Regions from separate parts of the Homo sapiens genome. Here regions 1 and 3 are each reported to be linked to region 2. Evidence: microRNA targets listed by miRTarBase, many of them from high-throughput screens and not tested one by one. Region 2 holds a microRNA gene; each other region holds the end of a gene's coding sequence.
The links. The annotated mature microRNA hsa-miR-6745 reads UGGGUGGAAGAAGGUCUGGUU and lies in region 2 at 1,437-1,457, shown strand. An mRNA with a match to its seed (bases 2 to 7 or 8) in the 3' UTR can be bound and repressed. Matches are read on the target gene's strand: a 7mer-m8 pairs with bases 2 to 8, a 7mer-A1 pairs with bases 2 to 7 and ends in A, and an 8mer does both.

Region 1 (3,245 bases), not on the chromosome of region 2:
GTTCTTCTCCCTGTGACTCTTAGTGATTCTGATGCAGGAAGTGTGCCCGGTGGCTCTGCTGCCGTCACTCCTCTAGGAAGATGTGGGGGTCATCTCCAGAGTGGGTGGGTGGGGCCTGGGTGACTCAGCACACATGCAAATCAGAGCAAACCAAGAAAACCACGACTGGGCCTGTAACTGTGGTCTCTCTCTATCCCAAGGTGATGGTGGCCCCAAGGCCTTGAAGGGGCTGGGCTCCAGCCCCGACCTGGAGCTGCTGCTCCGGAGCAGCCAGCGGGAGGAAGGTGACAATGAGGAGGAGGAGTACTTTGTGGCCCAGGGGCAGCAGTGACCAGCCAGGGCAAATGGCTTAGAAGCAGGCCACTCCCCAGCCTGCTGCCAGCACTCACTGTGCTCAAGCCGCCAGGGCTCATCATGGTAGCTGGGAGCTGTGGACGGGAGTCACCAGGTGGTGGGGCCAAGCCAGGGACTCATGACTTTTGCCCCTCCCTTCAGAGCCTGGTCACACAAGGGGCGAGCACCAGGCCAGCCTGGGACTGGCCAGAGCTGGGCCCAAGCTGCGCTGGAATCGCAGCAGGAGAGGGGAGTGGGCTGGTTCTTCCCACCACTTCCCAGGCTCTGACAGCCGAGACTCATTTCCAAGGCACAGCAGCTTTCTAAAGGGACTGAGTTTGGACTGGGTTTTGGACCTCCAGGGGCTGGAGCTTCATCACCTGGGCAGTGTCTTTTCTCAGAGAGCAGGTTTCTTTATAGTTTGGAAATAAATGGTTCACGGTCCACTGGCCGCCTTGTGTTGCTGGAGACGTGGGGGCAGGGAGGGGACAGTGTGGGCCTGGCCTCTCCTTTCCTTTCCCTGCCTGGAGCCTTCTTCAAATGTCTGGTCTTAAGCCAGGCCTCCTTCATTTTCTCGCTCCTGTTAGAACACCAGTCCCCTCCCCAGTGGGGCCCCACTGCACCTGCTGGCAGGAAATAAATGAATGTTTACTGAGTACTGCATTCTGGAGACCTTACATGTTTTCACAGCCTAGTTTGAATACTGGCTTTGTCACTAGCTGTGTGACCCTAAGCAAATGACCTAACCTGTCTGTGCCGTAGTTTTTTAATCTGTGAAATGGGGATAATGTCTATCTCAGAGTCCTTTTGAAGATTGAGTCATTATTAGTAACAGATTAAATGTTATATAAGCATTTCTTTTAATCCTTTTAACAACTAAGAGACTAAAGCCTGGAAAAGATAAAGAGCTGCTTAAGTGGCCGGGCTGAGGTTCACATCCAAGTCTGTGTACGTCTGTGTGTGCACGTGCTGCACGTGACATCCACACAGCCTCCTGGAACTTCATGGGCCCCTGGGGCTTGGGCTTTCCACTCCTCCTTGGCCAAGTCCCACGTCTTCTCTAGACTGCAGGCCTCTCTCAAATGAGGAAGGGAGGGGGCAAGACCCCAGCTCTGATGTGCTGTGGACTGAGTCTACTCCTGTAAACTGGTTCCCGGGCCATGGGAGACCCCCCCGGCCCTTGGGGACAAAGCTTTCCAGGCGAAGTGCTCCTAGGCACTCACAGCAGGTGGCGCCATTGCACCACACTGGCTCCCAGAGCCCAGCTGCCCTGCCACGGCTATCCAGACACCGGCAGAAAAGGGGTGCTTGGAAGAGGACAGTGGGTATCCATGGGTGGGGACAAGGATAGGGCTTGTTCTAAAATTGTTTCCATCAGGTTGGAGTCACTAAAGCTCGTTCGGTTAAGCCCAGGAGAACTTTAATACTTTAAAAATGGGTCTGCAAACTTCCTGTAAAGGGCCAGATAGTAAATATTTGGGGTTTGGGGACCATATGGCGTCTGTTGCAGCTACTCTGCCATCGTAGCACAAAAGCAGCCATAGATGACACAGACCCAGGGTGTGGCTGTCCCAGTGAAACCCCATTTACAAAAGTAGGATCCAGCTTGCTGGCTGAAGTTTACCAGCAGGAGAACCCTCAAGAATTCTCGAGTCCAACTTCCACTTCTGCAGCAGGAGACTGAAGCCAGGAGGGGGCGGTGACTAGCCCGAGGCCCTCAGAGCCTCCGTGCTCAGGAGTCAGACCGAGATCTGCCTCTAATTCAGATTCCCAGCACAGACTCAGCAGGCGGAGGTGGAGCACCAAGGGCGCTTGGAAGCGGCCTCTTATCTGGCTCCTGCACCTCTGCCCCCCTTGGATTCCGCAAGCTCAGAGGCCAAGATTAAAGGAGGCTCGTGCTCCAGCTGGATGATGTGGGAAGAGCCAGCCAAGGAGGGGGGCCAGGGCCTCCTCCGTCTTAGAGGCTGCTTGGGATGCAGGCTGCTTGGGCGGCAGGGGGAGTCTGCCAGAGCCCCGCTGGCTCAGGTGGATGAGAGCTTCCTGTCTGCTCCCCCACTGCCCGCCTCCCAGCACAGGGAGCAAGCGTTGCTGTCTGGTGCAGTAATTACAAGGTGCAGAGCGGGGGCCCTTACCTCGCACATGTTGGGTTCAATGACAGCCCTTCATTTAGCAGCAATTACCAGCTGAACCTAAAGGAGGGCTCCCTCTCCTCCCCCACCCAGCCCACCCAATCGCCTGGCCTCCCAGGCCAGACAGCGTCCACCTCGGCATTGAGCCCTAGAACCACCCATGCTGTCTGCAGCCATTGCATCTCAGGGCTGCAGCATCACCATGGCAACGCGGTGCTTGCACAGGTTGAGGGGAAGCTGAGGATGTGACTTGTCTCTCCAAGGCTGTGGTGTCTGTCCCCACACAGCCCCAGCTCCGAGGCTTCTGCAGAAGGGGCGGAGAGAGGACTGACCTGCAGGTTCGAGTTTCAAGTGCTTACCTGCCCACCACCTCTCCCAGGGGCCCACAGTGGAAGGAAGGTTAATGGCTCCAATATGTGAGGACGTCCACAGTTGGTGTTGTGGTGGCGGTGAGAATGGGCTGCAGTTTGCCTGTGGGAGGGACCTGAGCCATCAGGCAGGGCCCGGCATACCTTCATCTTCACTCCGGTACCCTTTTCTGCCTTGAGGGCTCAAGGGATTGTCTCCATCTGTTTCTGCTTTATCCTGCTGTGAAAAACCTGAAAATCCCAGTGGCTTGAGAGTAGTTACATGGCACCAAGAGAATTCTCCTCATGGTACTTGCTGCAGCTTCCTGCATCACACACTAGTGATGGACTGAGGGTGGGGACTCCCAGGCCATCCATTTAGGTCGACAGCATTCAGTGAGTACTGGCTACATGGCAGACACTGCCGGACTTGGGG
Region 2 (3,245 bases):
CCAGGATGGTCTCGATCTCCTGACCTTGTGATCCACCCGCCTTGGCCTCCCAAAGTGCTGGGATTACAGGAGTGAGCCACTGTGCCCGGCCCTCAGCTCCTGTTGTAGCCATAATGCTTTGGGCGAGTTCACATCTCTGGTCCTCAGTGTTTTGCCTGTTCAATGTTGGCAATGTCGCTGTCCTCACGATGGTGGCTGAGACAAGGAGTCAGTGAGATAAGGCACATGGTCCTCATTCAATAAGCCCAGCTGACAGGGTTGTCATTCACCTTTGCACCCCATGCGCGTACCCCATGCCTCCATGCCTCACACCCAGTGAGAGGGGCTAGGCTCATTTTGGGTGGTACCCAGGCCTGGCCTAAGCCCTGTCCCTCCCTGCAGGCCCCCAGTATGGCACACTGGAGAAGGCCTGGCATGCCTTTTTCACGGCGGCTGAGCGGCTGAGCGCGCTGCACCTGGAGGTGCGGGAGAAGCTGCAAGGGCAGGACAGTGAGCGGGTGCGCGCCTGGCAGCGGGGGGCTTTCCACCGGCCTGTGCTGGGCGGCTTCCGCGAGAGCCGGGCGGCCGAGGACGGCTTCCGCAAGGCCCAGAAGCCCTGGCTGAAGAGGCTGAAGGAGGTGAGGCTGGGTGGGGGAGGTATCCGAGACAGGCTCCTTCCTGTTTGTTTGCAAGGGATCGAGGGGGCCAAGGTGTGGCATCCAGGGTCCAGAGTGGTCTCCATGCATGCCAGGTTGAGGCTTCCAAGAAAAGCTACCACGCAGCCCGGAAGGATGAGAAGACCGCCCAGACGAGGGAGAGCCACGCAAAGGCAGACAGCGCCGTCTCCCAGGAGCAGCTGCGCAAACTGCAGGAACGGGTGGAACGCTGTGCCAAGGAGGCCGAGAAGGTACAGGCCACAGGTCCCAGCCCTGGCCCCCGCCCAGGGCACGGCTTCCTGAATGAATCTTGCTCCCTGAACATCTTGTCCAGTCCCCAGCACCCTTATTACCCTATTCCTCACCTGCCACCCTCTCTCCAGATGATCATTTAAAGGAGGAACCTGACAAAAGGTGATGCTTTACTAGGGAAAGAAATGGAGTTTCAGGCACTGGGATGACTTCAGCAGTTGAGAACTTCCAGCTCTTTTCCTTGCACAGTACCCTTTGCCCGAAGTGTCCTTTCCTGCAGCTCTGGATATGCAAATCCTCCCCATCCTGAGATGCTGCAGTTTCCACCTCCTCCAGGAAGCCTTTTCTGATTTCTCCCATCCTTTCCTGTAGGTTGACCTCATTTCAATCCTCACCAGACTCTTTTATATGCTGTGCCTGATGTCACCTCCCTTGTTAGGCTGCTGGGGTCCTTGAGGGCAGGAGCTGGGTCTTGGGACTGATTGCCCCTAGTGGCTAGCCCTGGGTCTAGCAGCCTATGGCAGTGTCTGGTAAACACTGGTGGAGTCCTGGGTGGAAGAAGGTCTGGTTCTCACCAGGCCCCTCCTCTCCCACCCAGACAAAAGCTCAGTATGAGCAGACGCTGGCAGAGCTGCATCGCTACACTCCACGCTACATGGAGGACATGGAACAGGCCTTTGAGACCTGCCAGGCCGCCGAGCGCCAGCGGCTTCTTTTCTTCAAGGATATGCTGCTCACCTTACACCAGCACCTGGACCTTTCCAGCAGTGAGAAGTATGAACTGCCTGGTGGGCATGGAGATCTGGGGTAGTACTGGGTCTCCTCCATCTCCCCGAGGCCCTGGCTGGGACTGAGGGATGCAGGGTCTAGACTTCCTAGACTGAGGGGTGTGCCTTGGGTCATAGGTTCCATGAACTCCACCGTGACTTGCACCAGGGCATTGAGGCAGCCAGTGACGAAGAGGATCTGCGCTGGTGGCGCAGCACCCACGGGCCAGGCATGGCCATGAACTGGCCACAGTTCGAGGCATGTGTTCCAGGCGGGGTGGGGATGGGAGGTGGGATGGGCTCCCACTCAGCTCGGCCAGGGCTAGGGATGAAGTAAGTGAAGGTGGTTCAGATGGCCCCACCTGACTATAAGCACTGTCCCCACAGGAGTGGTCCTTGGACACACAGAGGACAATCAGCCGGAAAGAGAAGGGTGGCCGGAGCCCTGATGAGGTTACCCTGACCAGCATTGTGCCTACAAGAGATGGCACCGCACCCCCACCCCAGTCCCCGGGGTCCCCAGGGTGAGAGCCAGGAGCGCGGCTGTGGCAAAGAAACAGCTCTGCCTCCCGCCCTCCTTTCCTTTCTCCTTGGTTTCATTTCTTTCACACCTGAAATGGGTTGAAAATTGGTGCCAGGGACCTGAGGGCCTACTTAGTAGTTGTAATGATACTGGTTCTCATAGTGGTTTAGATTTGCTGGGCATTTCCCACATTCCCTCTCGTTTATGCCTTAAATCAGCTGCGTGTGGCAGGAATTGCCTCTTTGCTCACAGTCGGGCATGGCGAGGTAGAGCTAGAATCTTTAGTACCTCACCTGACTCTCCCAGGTGCCTCTGGGGGTAGGGAGGCCTTTGCCCTGATCCTGGGTGAGATCTCCAGCCCCGTGTTCCTTGCACTCTGAGCTGCTCCCTTTGCCTCCCCTCTCCAGCACGGGGCAGGATGAGGAGTGGTCAGATGAAGAGAGTCCCCGGAAGGCTGCCACCGGGGTTCGGGTGAGGGCACTCTATGACTACGCTGGCCAGGAAGCTGATGAGCTGAGCTTCCGAGCAGGTACCCTGGGACCCCTTTCCTAGCTTCAGCCTCTGCCTTATCTGCCTGAGCAGGGGTGTCAGAAAGGGAAGCCAAATACCCACTTCTTAAGGGCCAGTCCTCTGTCCCTTCAGCTGTTCCAGGTCCAGATAGCTGGTGCCTGGTGGCTGCATTCAGGGTCTGGGGTGGGGCAGCTTGCTGACCTTGACCTGCCTCTGCCTGAGCCATGTCTTTGCTAGCTGGGCTCTGGGACCACACCATCCCCCTCAGTCCTTGACCCAGTTGCAGGAACAGGGCCTGGGCCAGGGCCACTGGCAGTGACCAATCCCCTTTCCCCCAGGGGAGGAGCTGCTGAAGATGAGTGAGGAGGACGAGCAGGGCTGGTGCCAAGGCCAGTTGCAGAGTGGCCGCATTGGCCTGTACCCTGCCAACTACGTGGAGTGTGTGGGCGCCTGAGTGTCCTGACAGCCCTTCTGCAACGTTTACCCACCCTGGTTCAGAGCCCAGCTTCTCCTGGAGAGCCGGACCCTCAGGGCCCTGAACCGTCGCTCTCTGGCTGC
Region 3 (3,245 bases), not on the chromosome of region 2:
TCTGGCTCTTGCTCACCCCTGCACCATCATCTCCCCCATGCCCTCCTCTCCTGCACTCTGCTCCAGCCACCTGGCTTCCATCAGTTCCCTGACCCTGCCCATCTCGTTCCCACCTTGGATTCTGGAGTAAGTGCTACTTCTTGACTTACCTCAGACAGGGCACTTTCCTCCTCTCTACCTGTTTCTCAGCAGTAACATGGTTTGATTATCACCAATGGAGGGTCAAGAAAGAGGACCACCCTTAGCCCTTTACCTGGCCCAGAGTGGGCACAGATGGCTACAGTTTTTCACATCACCAAGGCCATAGCATGCAGATGGCCCCTTTCCCCACCCACCTACATCACTCTCTGAGGACTAAAACTGCACCTTCCTTCTCTCTCCCTGCAGGATACTTTTGTGGAACTCTATGGGAACAATGCAGCAGCCGAGAGCCGAAAGGGCCAGGAACGCTTCAACCGCTGGTTCCTGACGGGCATGACTGTGGCCGGCGTGGTTCTGCTGGGCTCACTCTTCAGTCGGAAATGACCAGACACTGACCATCCACTCTACCCTCCCACCCCCTTCTCTGCTCCACCACATCCTCCGTCCAGCCGCCATTGCCACCAGGAGAACCACTACATGCAGCCCATGCCCACCTGCCCATCACAGGGTTGGGCCCAGATCTGGTCCCTTGCAGCTAGTTTTCTAGAATTTATCACACTTCTGTGAGACCCCCACACCTCAGTTCCCTTGGCCTCAGAATTCACAAAATTTCCACAAAATCTGTCCAAAGGAGGCTGGCAGGTATGGAAGGGTTTGTGGCTGGGGGCAGGAGGGCCCTACCTGATTGGTGCAACCCTTACCCCTTAGCCTCCCTGAAAATGTTTTTCTGCCAGGGAGCTTGAAAGTTTTCAGAACCTCTTCCCCAGAAAGGAGACTAGATTGCCTTTGTTTTGATGTTTGTGGCCTCAGAATTGATCATTTTCCCCCCACTCTCCCCACACTAACCTGGGTTCCCTTTCCTTCCATCCCTACCCCCTAAGAGCCATTTAGGGGCCACTTTTGACTAGGGATTCAGGCTGCTTGGGATAAAGATGCAAGGACCAGGACTCCCTCCTCACCTCTGGACTGGCTAGAGTCCTCACTCCCAGTCCAAATGTCCTCCAGAAGCCTCTGGCTAGAGGCCAGCCCCACCCAGGAGGGAGGGGGCTATAGCTACAGGAAGCACCCCATGCCAAAGCTAGGGTGGCCCTTGCAGTTCAGCACCACCCTAGTCCCTTCCCCTCCCTGGCTCCCATGACCATACTGAGGGACCAACTGGGCCCAAGACAGATGCCCCAGAGCTGTTTATGGCCTCAGCTGCCTCACTTCCTACAAGAGCAGCCTGTGGCATCTTTGCCTTGGGCTGCTCCTCATGGTGGGTTCAGGGGACTCAGCCCTGAGGTGAAAGGGAGCTATCAGGAACAGCTATGGGAGCCCCAGGGTCTTCCCTACCTCAGGCAGGAAGGGCAGGAAGGAGAGCCTGCTGCATGGGGTGGGGTAGGGCTGACTAGAAGGGCCAGTCCTGCCTGGCCAGGCAGATCTGTGCCCCATGCCTGTCCAGCCTGGGCAGCCAGGCTGCCAAGGCCAGAGTGGCCTGGCCAGGAGCTCTTCAGGCCTCCCTCTCTCTTCTGCTCCACCCTTGGCCTGTCTCATCCCCAGGGGTCCCAGCCACCCCGGGCTCTCTGCTGTACATATTTGAGACTAGTTTTTATTCCTTGTGAAGATGATATACTATTTTTGTTAAGCGTGTCTGTATTTATGTGTGAGGAGCTGCTGGCTTGCAGTGCGCGTGCACGTGGAGAGCTGGTGCCCGGAGATTGGACGGCCTGATGCTCCCTCCCCTGCCCTGGTCCAGGGAAGCTGGCCGAGGGTCCTGGCTCCTGAGGGGCATCTGCCCCTCCCCCAACCCCCACCCCACACTTGTTCCAGCTCTTTGAAATAGTCTGTGTGAAGGTGAAAGTGCAGTTCAGTAATAAACTGTGTTTACTCAGTGAACAAAGAGCCTGGGCTCTTGTGTGCTCCGGGATGGGGAAAGGAGGGGCCGCTGGAGAGCTGGGTACTGGTCCTGGCTCTGCTGCCCTCAGGGGAGGGCCTTGGACAAGTCCTTCCTTCCTTCTGGGCCTGAATTTATCCACCTGTACGGTGACAGGGTTTTACTGGGTACATGCTGTGTGCTGGGCACTGGGGCTGCATGTGAACAGGACAGACACAGTCTCTGCCCTCAGGAGCTGACATTCTAGTGGGAGACACAGCCACTTGGCAAGTGTTTACTGAGCTCTGCTCTACACAGACATAGTCCTGGGCACTGGGGACTTCTTCAAACAAAACCTTTGCCTTTACAAGCATTCATTCTAGTGGAAGAGACAGACATAAGCACGGCTCTAGCTGCTGTAGGGTGTGGGGGAAAGGTGTGATGCCTTTCCTCACCCATCAGAAGGTTCTGTGACTGACATTCCTATAACAAAAGAAAAACAAAGTGGCAGTTCACACCCTGTAATCTCAATACTTTGCGGGTGGGGGATGGGTTGCTTAAGGTCAGGAGTTCAAGATCAGCCTGGGCAACAAAGTGAGACCCTGTCTCTACAAAAAAATTTTTAAATTAGCCAACCCAGCAAGGCCAGTCCAGATTCTTCTTGGCCTCTGTGTAGCATTCCTTCCTCTCCTGTACAGGAGACAAGACATAGGTCAGAGTATTTATTTGTTTTTTAAGAGGGTCTTGCCCCGTCACCCAGGCTGGAATGCAGTAGTGTGATAGATAACTGCAGCTTCAAATTCCTGGGCTCAAGTGATCCTCCTGCCTCAGTCTCTTGAGCAGCTGAAATTACATGTGAGTGCCACCAAGCCTGGCTAATTTTCAAATTTTTTTTTGTAGAGATGGGGATCTTGTTATGTTGCCCAGGCTGGTCTCGAACACCTAGCCTCCAGTGATCCCCATGCCCAGCCGAGAATTTGTGGCCAGCTTCTACACAGTAGAGCAGAGGAAGGTTACAGTAATATTTCTGTGTTTTAGCGGATCACGAGGTCAGGAGATCAAGACCATCCTGGCAAACACAGTGAAACCCCGTCTCTACTAAAAATACAAAAAAAAATTAGCCGGGCGTGGTGGTGGGCGCCTGTAGTCCCAGCTACTCGGGAGGCTGAGGCAGGAGAATGGCGTGAACCCGGGAGGCGGAGCTTGCAGTGAGCCGAAATCGCGCCACTGCACTCCAGCCTGGGCGACAGAG

Region 1: the mRNA of SLC35H1 is a reported target of hsa-miR-6745. Seed matches in the 3' UTR shown: 7mer-A1 at 2,548-2,554, 7mer-A1 at 2,557-2,563 and 7mer-A1 at 2,617-2,623.
Region 3: miRTarBase lists BCL2L1 as a target of hsa-miR-6745. Seed matches in the 3' UTR shown: 7mer-A1 at 1,170-1,176 and 7mer-m8 at 1,654-1,660.

The regions. Positions count from the first base shown.
Region 1 is chr20:46,347,480-46,350,724 of GRCh38, reverse strand. It overlaps SLC35H1 (solute carrier family 35 member H1), which reads left to right. Exons shown (of 10, transcript NM_015945.12): 10 at 201-3,245. The coding sequence ends at 331. Among named protein-coding and RNA genes, the nearest start is that of SLC35H1, 15 kb to the left of the region's middle.
Region 2 is chr11:47,177,827-47,181,071 of GRCh38, reverse strand. MIR6745 (microRNA 6745) reads left to right here and starts at 1,335; the gene lies at 1,335-1,461. PACSIN3 (protein kinase C and casein kinase substrate in neurons 3) reads left to right here. Exons shown (of 11, transcript NM_016223.5): 5 at 382-617; 6 at 731-886; 7 at 1,486-1,661; 8 at 1,793-1,913; 9 at 2,042-2,178; 10 at 2,585-2,706; 11 at 3,026-3,245. The coding sequence ends at 3,141. RefSeq lists enhancers at 3,066-3,115, 3,196-3,245, 3,093-3,245.
Region 3 is chr20:31,663,229-31,666,473 of GRCh38, reverse strand. It overlaps BCL2L1 (BCL2 like 1), which reads left to right. Exons shown (of 3, transcript NM_138578.3): 3 at 388-2,016. The coding sequence ends at 525. Among named protein-coding and RNA genes, the nearest start is that of BCL2L1-AS1, 10 kb to the left of the region's middle. RefSeq lists enhancers at 2,354-2,648, 1,893-2,723.